Homo sapiens: one gene and its partner. The protein of the gene in region 2 purifies or fractionates together with the protein of the main gene of each other region. This does not show direct contact. Each region holds a gene or a part of one and is shown on either strand. Other genes may lie near its edges.

Region 1 (3,747 bases), on a different chromosome or scaffold from region 2:
GTGTTTCAGTTAAAAACGAAAGACACTGATGCTGTAAGAGTGTATGGCGATGCTTGTGGGAATTTCCCAACAGCACCGTGGAAGGGTTTGGGAGGTTTGAGGTGTTGGAGAACACAGGGATTAGAGTTTGGCAATAACAGTTATTGGAGAGAATCCCTGGATTTCTAGTGTTGAGTGAGTTTCACAGGGACACAAAGCATGATGCAACCACATCACGGAAGGCCTTGAATGGCTGCCCCAGGCATGACTATTTCACCCCATCGGCCAAGGCCATGGGGACAGTGGTGGCGTTTTGGTCCAAGTTTAAGCAGCAAACTGTCTTGGTCAAAGGCAGGCTTTAGGAAAATTAATTTTCCAGCCATGTGAATGAAAGAGACTCTTAGAAAGCTACTGCAATAGGCCAGGCTTAGTCTCCGTTCAGGGTATGAACACTGAGAATGCTGGAAGGAAATCATGGTTACAGGAAATGCGGTTGAATTTTGAGACACACGGGAAAAGAGCGAGCAATACAAGATGCCTCCCATGTTTCAAGCTTAAGTGGCTGGAAGAACAGACTTTGGAGGGAGATTGATGGTTTTGGTGTTTGGCAACCCATGGTTAAAGGTTCATAAGTGGCTGGGCCTAAGGCGGGAGCAGAATAATGACAGGTGAGACAGTGGGCGCGTCCCCTGTTGCCAAGCCAGGAGTTAACTACCTGGGGCTTCCTGGATTGAGGATAATCAAAGAGCAGGCAGGATCCCGGAGAGCAACCCGGTGATTCTAATTTAGCTTCAGATCCCCGGGGTAGGGCTGGAGCTTTCGATTACCATCTGCTGTAAGGTGTGTGTGCAGGTGCGAGTTATGAGTCGCTGGGCAGGGATGCCTTCGGGCCATTCCACAGGCTGAGTTCAGCCATAGCAGGCGTGCTGTCATTCATTTTAGTAACCGGCATAAATGAGGGCACAGTAGGACCCCAGTCAGTCCTGCTAGGTGCCTTCTTGTCTAGAAGAGGCCGCTTTGACTTTCTTTCCTCTTCATCCCTGAGTTGAGGCCGGGCAGGGGTAACCAGCAAGGGGTTCACTTGGGAAGCGGGTTTCATCACCCCTCTGAGCCCAGGTCGAGAATCACAGTTGAGCTCTGGCCAAGAATCTAACTAATTCAGGTGCAAACCCCACCGTCTTTTGCCCGATTTCCTATATTCTGCTGACAGCAGCTCTCTCCTTCCTTTGGCCTGAAATCGCGGGGTGCTTGTGTGAGCTGAGATTAGCCGAGGCTGACCTGCCCCTCCGTGGCTTCCCGCTGGCCTCATCGTTACTTCGTGTGTTCACCGCCGCTCTGAGCAGAGCGGGCCCCTGGGGAAAGGGGTGCGGGCCTGGGTTGCGGAGGCGCAGGAGCCTCGCGGGATTGGGGCGAGCCGTCCCATGGCGGGAAGGCAGGAGGCCGGACTCGGAAGGCTCTCCCAGACTCGGTCCCTCGCTCCAGCCCTTCCCTGCCGGTGCGCGGAGCCGGGGCTCGGGCGGGTAGCGGTCGCGCGCCGGCGCGGGCGGGCGGGGAGAGGAAGGGGCGCGGCCTCTCCGGGGCGGGGCGCGGGGCGGGCGCTGCGAGGGGACCGGAGGCCGCGGCGAGAGCGCGCCCAGCCCCGCCGCGATGCCCGCGCGCCCAGGACGCCTCCTCCCGCTGCTGGCCCGGCCGGCGGCCCTGACTGCGCTGCTGCTGCTGCTGCTGGGCCATGGCGGCGGCGGGCGCTGGGGCGCCCGGGCCCAGGAGGCGGCGGCGGCGGCGGCGGACGGGCCCCCCGCGGCAGACGGCGAGGACGGACAGGACCCGCACAGCAAGCACCTGTACACGGCCGACATGTTCACGCACGGGATCCAGAGCGCCGCGCACTTCGTCATGTTCTTCGCGCCCTGGTAACGCCGCGCAGGCCGGCGCCCTGCCCCGCACTTGGCGCTTCGCGGGGCGTGGGGCGCTTGGGCGCCGCGGGCGGGGGGTCCCGGGGCCACGTGGACGCCGACGGCTCTGGTCTGCGGCGTGCGTGCTACGGGCGCGGGGCTCGGGGCTCAGGGGTGCGGGGTGTAATACTGGGGGCGCGGGGCCGGGAGCGCGGGGACCCTGCGGGTTCGGGGCTCCGGCTGGCGGGGAGCGGGGGGCGCGGGCGCCGCGGCTCGGGGCCGGGAGCCGGGGACTGCAGGGGACCGAGGGCTTGGGGCTCCGGGTCGGGAGGCGTGAGCTCAGCGGGCCGGGCACTGGCGGCTGACGTGGCGCTCGGCGGCCGGGGCGGTGCGGGAGGAGGGGGCGGACCCCTAGGGGACAGCCGGGAAAAGCCCGCCCTGCGCCGCGCTCCTGAATTCAACCGCCTCTTGCACCTCGGCACCGAGGGAGGGGAAGGTGGGGTCGTCGCCCTTTCGGGCAGCCGGGAGTCCAAATGTCACCCCGCGGTCCCTGCCCAGCGCCCCAAACTTCCTGTGCCGGCCGGACGCGCGGCCTGCCCGTGGGCCACGTGCACTCACCAGAGCGGCCTTGCTGCTGCCGCGGCCACCGGGGTCGGCTGGGACAGACTGCGGGCACGTCCCCTTCCAGAGGCTTTAACTGAAAAATAGAACCCAGGAAGGTGTGGTTTCCCACTTTGTGCGTCTTTTGTGGGATAGGAAGGAGTGGTCCGGGCAGAGGAGGGTTGCTGAGCTACCCCGGGAAGACCAAGGTAGTGCGAATTCTGGAACCCCTCCGCCCCCCTGCAGCTCAGGGTGGATGTAATCTCTGAACGGAGCCCACTGGTCCTCAACTCCAGGCTGTCCTGTCACCTCCCTGCTGCTCTCTCGGGTCCAGGTCACTTGTTATGTGTGAGATCGGAAAAGCCCCTCCGTTGAGCAGATGGTCCCTCTTGCTTTGGTTCTCTGGGCGAGGCTTTGGTGTGGGCCTCGCTGCTGACCTGAGAGACCCTACCCTGGCACTCATCCCACGGAAGAGCTTCCTGTCATTCACACAAGCATGTGCACAGCTTTCCTGCCAGTGCCGGGATGCCCCGAGGAAGGGAAGTGACCACAGGCCAGAGCAGAAAGCCATAATTTTAGGACACAAGACCTTTGAGAGGTTGGAATAGCCTGCAGGTTCTTGTTGCAGAACTTGGTATTCTTCCCCAGAGCTCAGTAGAGGCTCACTTGGGAAAGGGATGTAGGGAGGCATAGAGAAAAGGTACCCTAAGAAAAATGGCCAGTTCAGAAATTGTACCTTTCAAACTGGGAGAAACGTTTTTCTCTTAACCTTGTATTCAGGCTATTACTGCGTTTCAGTTCATTTGGAGTTAAATCAACTTTTAGGGCCACTGTGGGTTTATTAACAATGTGTATATGAAGTACATTATGTTTCACATTCCTAAGAACCAACTGACTCGAATTTTTACAACTCCAATGGTTTAGAAATTACTTTGTAACATAAAACAATCAGGCAGTATTAACAGTTTCTCTTTGTTCGGGAGTATTCTCAGCAACTATTTCAATTAAGTGTACTACTTAATTGGAGCCTATTTCAGTGGAATACATCTGTCGATGGGTTTTCTTTTTTCTTTCTTCATTATTTATTTATTTTAGAGATGGGATCTTGCTCTGTTACCCAGCCTGAAACCAGTGGTACGCAGCCGCAGCTCACTGTAGCCTCTAACTCCTGGGCTCAAGTGATTCTCCTGCCTCAGCCTCTGAAGTAGCTGTGACTACAGGCGCAGGTCATCACACCCAGCTTATTTTGTTGTTGTTGTTTTTGTTGTAGTTGGTA
Region 2 (3,647 bases):
CTGTACGTTACTTAGTATTATACCAGTGTTAATTTCTTGGTTTTAAAAATGTTTTTGGTGGTTACATAAAGTAAGATGTCAACACTGGGGAGATTCTGGGAAGAGTATATGGGAACTCTACATATTTTACAACTTTTCTACAAGTCTAAAATTATTTCAAAATAAAAAGTTAAAAAAAAAACCCAAACAAAAAACCCTCAGTGGGTAGGTTAAATAGCAAAAAAAAAAAAAAAGAAAAAGTCGATTGTAAGATAAAACTGAAGAAATGATCCAGAATATATCCGGAGAAACAAGGAGATAGAAAATATGAGCTCAGAGATGCCTAAGATAGAAAGAGAGGGCTGGACATGCATCCAACTGGAATCCCTGAGGACAGAATAGAAAGAATCAAAGTGGAAGTAAAGAGATAATGACTGGCTGGGCGCGGTTGCTCACACCTGTAATCCCAGCACTTTGGGAGGCTAAGGCAGGCAGATCCCTTGAGCCCAGGAGTTCAAGACCAGCCTGGGCAACATGGCAAAATGTTGTCTCTACTAAAAATACAAAAATTAGCTGGGCATGGTGGTGCATGCCTATAGTCCCAGCTGCTTTGGAGGGTGAGGTGGGAGGATCGCTTGAGCCTGGGAGGAGGAGGAGGTTGCAGTGAGCCAAGATCGCGCCACTGTGCTCCAGCCTAGGTGACAGAGTAAGATCGTGTCTCAAAACAAAACAAAACAAAACAAAATGAAATAATGACTGAAAATTCCAAGGACAAATGAAAGACATGAATACCAACAAGGAGAGGTTAAATAAAAATAAATCCACATTGTAGACACGCTGTAGCAAAACTAAAGAGAAGGCCTAAAAGTGCCCAGAGAGAGACTCAGATTCCTCAGAAAGAAGCATCAGTGACTGACAGCTGACCTTCCAACCAATGGTGGAAGCCAGAACACAGCGGAAAAATACCTTCACAGTGTGGATGGAAGACAACTGTCACCCCAGAATAGTGTTCCTGGCAAAACGAACTTTCAAGAAGAGGACAAAATAAAACATGTTTACAGACAAACAAACAAAAACTGAGAGTTTACAACTACAGATCTATTCTAAAAGAACTTCTAAAAGATGTTTTTTACTTCAGAAAGAAAGAAAATAAGCTTTGGAGGATTTGAGATGCAAGAAAAAAATGACAAGAAATGTGTATTAACATATGGGTAAATCTAAATAAGTACTGTATGTATAAAATAAAGAAATTAAGAAGAAAAATGTCATTTGTGGGTACTGTAAAAAAAAAGAGAAAATAATATAGCTTGTAAGTTTGAGAAGGAGTGGGTGACAAGTAAAAAAATATATATTAAGGGCCTTGAATTACTCAGGAGGTGGGGTTGTGTTAAGTATGCATATGGTAAGATTTCAAGGTAACCTATAAAAGAAAAGAGACAGAATATAACTTACAATCCAGCAGACGGGGAATAAGAGAAAAGAAAAAACAAAGTCAAGGGTAGAGACAAGAATTCAGGACAAATAGAAAGAAGAAAGCCAGAAGTCCAAATATGTCAGTAAATACAAAGGGGCTAAAAATGGCAATTAAAAGATAGAGGTTGTCAGATTGGATAAAAAAAGAAAATCTAGGCATTATGCTGCTTACAAGAGACTCATTTAAGATATAAAGATATGTGAATTTAAAAGCAGAGATAGAAAATAATAATATAAATACTGAACAGAATAAAGGCCTTGGGGGCCTTCAGGCCAGTCTCAACAGCTATAGTAGTCTCAACAGCTATAGTAGTCCCGCATGTGGCTTGCCTGATGCTGGCATAAGGCTGCTGCACCCCACCCTGACTGATCCTCCTAACGCCCCCTCACCTGGCTGGTGATGTCTGAAGGCATAGGCGAGGGGGGCTTGGAGTAGGTGGCGTCCTGGGAGACGAAGCCAGAGTCATGGGAGGAAACGCTGGAGAGGCGAGCGGTGGTGGTGGCTGGCTGCGCCAGGCTGCGGTAGCGACAGGTGGAACTGGGTGAGTATGTTTGGGCACCCCCAGGCCATGGGGCTCCGCCACCCTTGGCACTGCTACTGCTGCTGGGGGCACTAGGGGAGTGAAGGAAGAGGGCACAGCAGCCAGACAGGGAGACAGAGGGGTGTGTGTTTGGGGGAGGTTGACAAACGAGGGTGGGGAAAGAGGTGAGGGGCAAAGGAAGGAAAAGACAATGTCAGACTAGGAGGTCCTGAGACCCAGGTGCTACACAGGAGCTGTGTTCTGGGACGGTGTGGAAGGGGAGGGCCAGAGCAGGGTACCCCCAGCCCCAGTGCTGAGGGGAGCCGTGGTCAGGGAATGCCCAGGGTGAGGCAACCTCTCTGCCTCCTATTCTGCCACTAAGAACAGTTGTCCAGGCTGGGCACAGTGGCTCATGTCTGTAATCCCAGAACTTTGGGAGACCAAGGCGGGTGGATCATTTGAGGACAGGAGTTCAAGACCAGCCTGGAGAACATAGCGAAACCCCATCACCACTAAAAATGCAAAAGTTAGCTGGGCATGGTGGCGCATGCCTGTAATCTCAGCTACTTGGCAGGCTGAGGCACGAGAATCACTTGAACCTGGGAGGCGGAGGTTGCAGTGAGCCAAGATTATGCCACTGCACTCCAGCCTAGGAGAGCAAGGCTCTGTCTTGAAAAAAAAAAAAAGAAACAAGAAACAGTTGTCCTGTCTGGGCGTGGTGGCTCACACCTGTCCCAGCACTTTGGGAGTCTGAGGTGGGTGGATTGCTTGAGTCCAGGAATTTGAGACCAGCCTGGGCAATAGGGTGAGACCCTGTCTCTACAAAATATATGAAAATTAGCCAGGCGTGGTGGTGCACACCTGTATTCCCAGCTACTTGGGAAGCTGAGGCAGGAGAATCGCTTGAACCCGGGAGGTCGAGGCCACAGTGAGCCATGATTGTGCCACTGCACTCCAGCCTGGGTGACAGAGCGAGACCCTGTCTCACAATGACAACAAAACCCAAAAAACCCACCAAAAAACCTATTGGTTTCACCAAAGATCTTAATCTAGATTCCTATATCCTAAAGAATATATCTTTATCACTGAGGCCTCAGCCTCCCGAGTAGCTGGGACTACAGGCACACACCACCATGCCCGGCTAATTTTTTTGTATTTTTTAGTAAAGACGGGGTTTCACCGTTTTTACCAGGATGGTCTCAATCTCCTGACCTCGTGATCCGCCTGCCTCGGCCTCCCGAACTGCTGGGATTACAGGCGTGAACGACTGCCCCCGGTGAGTCCAATCATTCCTAAACCACCTTCTCAAAATCTGGTATTTGCCATCCAGTCCTAACTGGATGTCTAGCATATGGTGATGGTGTGTGTGCGTACAGAGGTCACCTTCCAAGTGGGTCCTGCACCCACCATCACCCTCACTCTCTCCAATCCCTCAAGGGTGTCCAGCCCTCTATGGCTCACACCCTCAGCACAGCAATTCAACCCTTGGGTGGTGTTCCTGGCTAAGCGTGACCCTGAAGCCTCCCAGCCTCTGCCCCTGCTCATGGCTGTCCCCTGCAATCAGCCCCTTCACTGTGGGACGGCCACCCACGCAGGGTCTGAAGAGCCTCTCTCTGAGGTAGTAGCTGATTGCTGTGCCTGGCTTCTCCCAAGCTCTGGATGTCCAGCCAGTGA

What was found. The genes of interacting proteins can lie anywhere in the genome.
Region 1: the proteins of MTSS2 (region 2) and TXNDC5 purify together in Homo sapiens (affinity purification with mass spectrometry; one large-scale study listed by BioGRID and IntAct). This does not show direct contact.

Annotation. Positions count from the first base shown.
Region 1 is NC_000006.12:7,908,656-7,912,402, reverse strand, and holds the start of TXNDC5 (thioredoxin domain-containing protein 5 isoform 1 precursor), read left to right. Parts: upstream 1-1,614; 5' UTR 1,615-1,626; coding exon 1,627-1,889; intron 1,890-2,325; exon of another isoform or gene 2,326-2,590; intron 2,591-3,747. UniProt on the Homo sapiens protein: Protein disulfide isomerase of the endoplasmic reticulum lumen involved in the formation of disulfide bonds in proteins. Can reduce insulin disulfide bonds.
Region 2 is NC_000016.10:70,672,464-70,676,110, forward strand, and holds part of MTSS2 (protein MTSS 2), read right to left. Parts: intron 2,066-3,647; coding exon 1,843-2,065; intron 1-1,842. UniProt on the Homo sapiens protein: Involved in plasma membrane dynamics. Potentiated PDGF-mediated formation of membrane ruffles and lamellipodia in fibroblasts, acting via RAC1 activation. May function in actin bundling.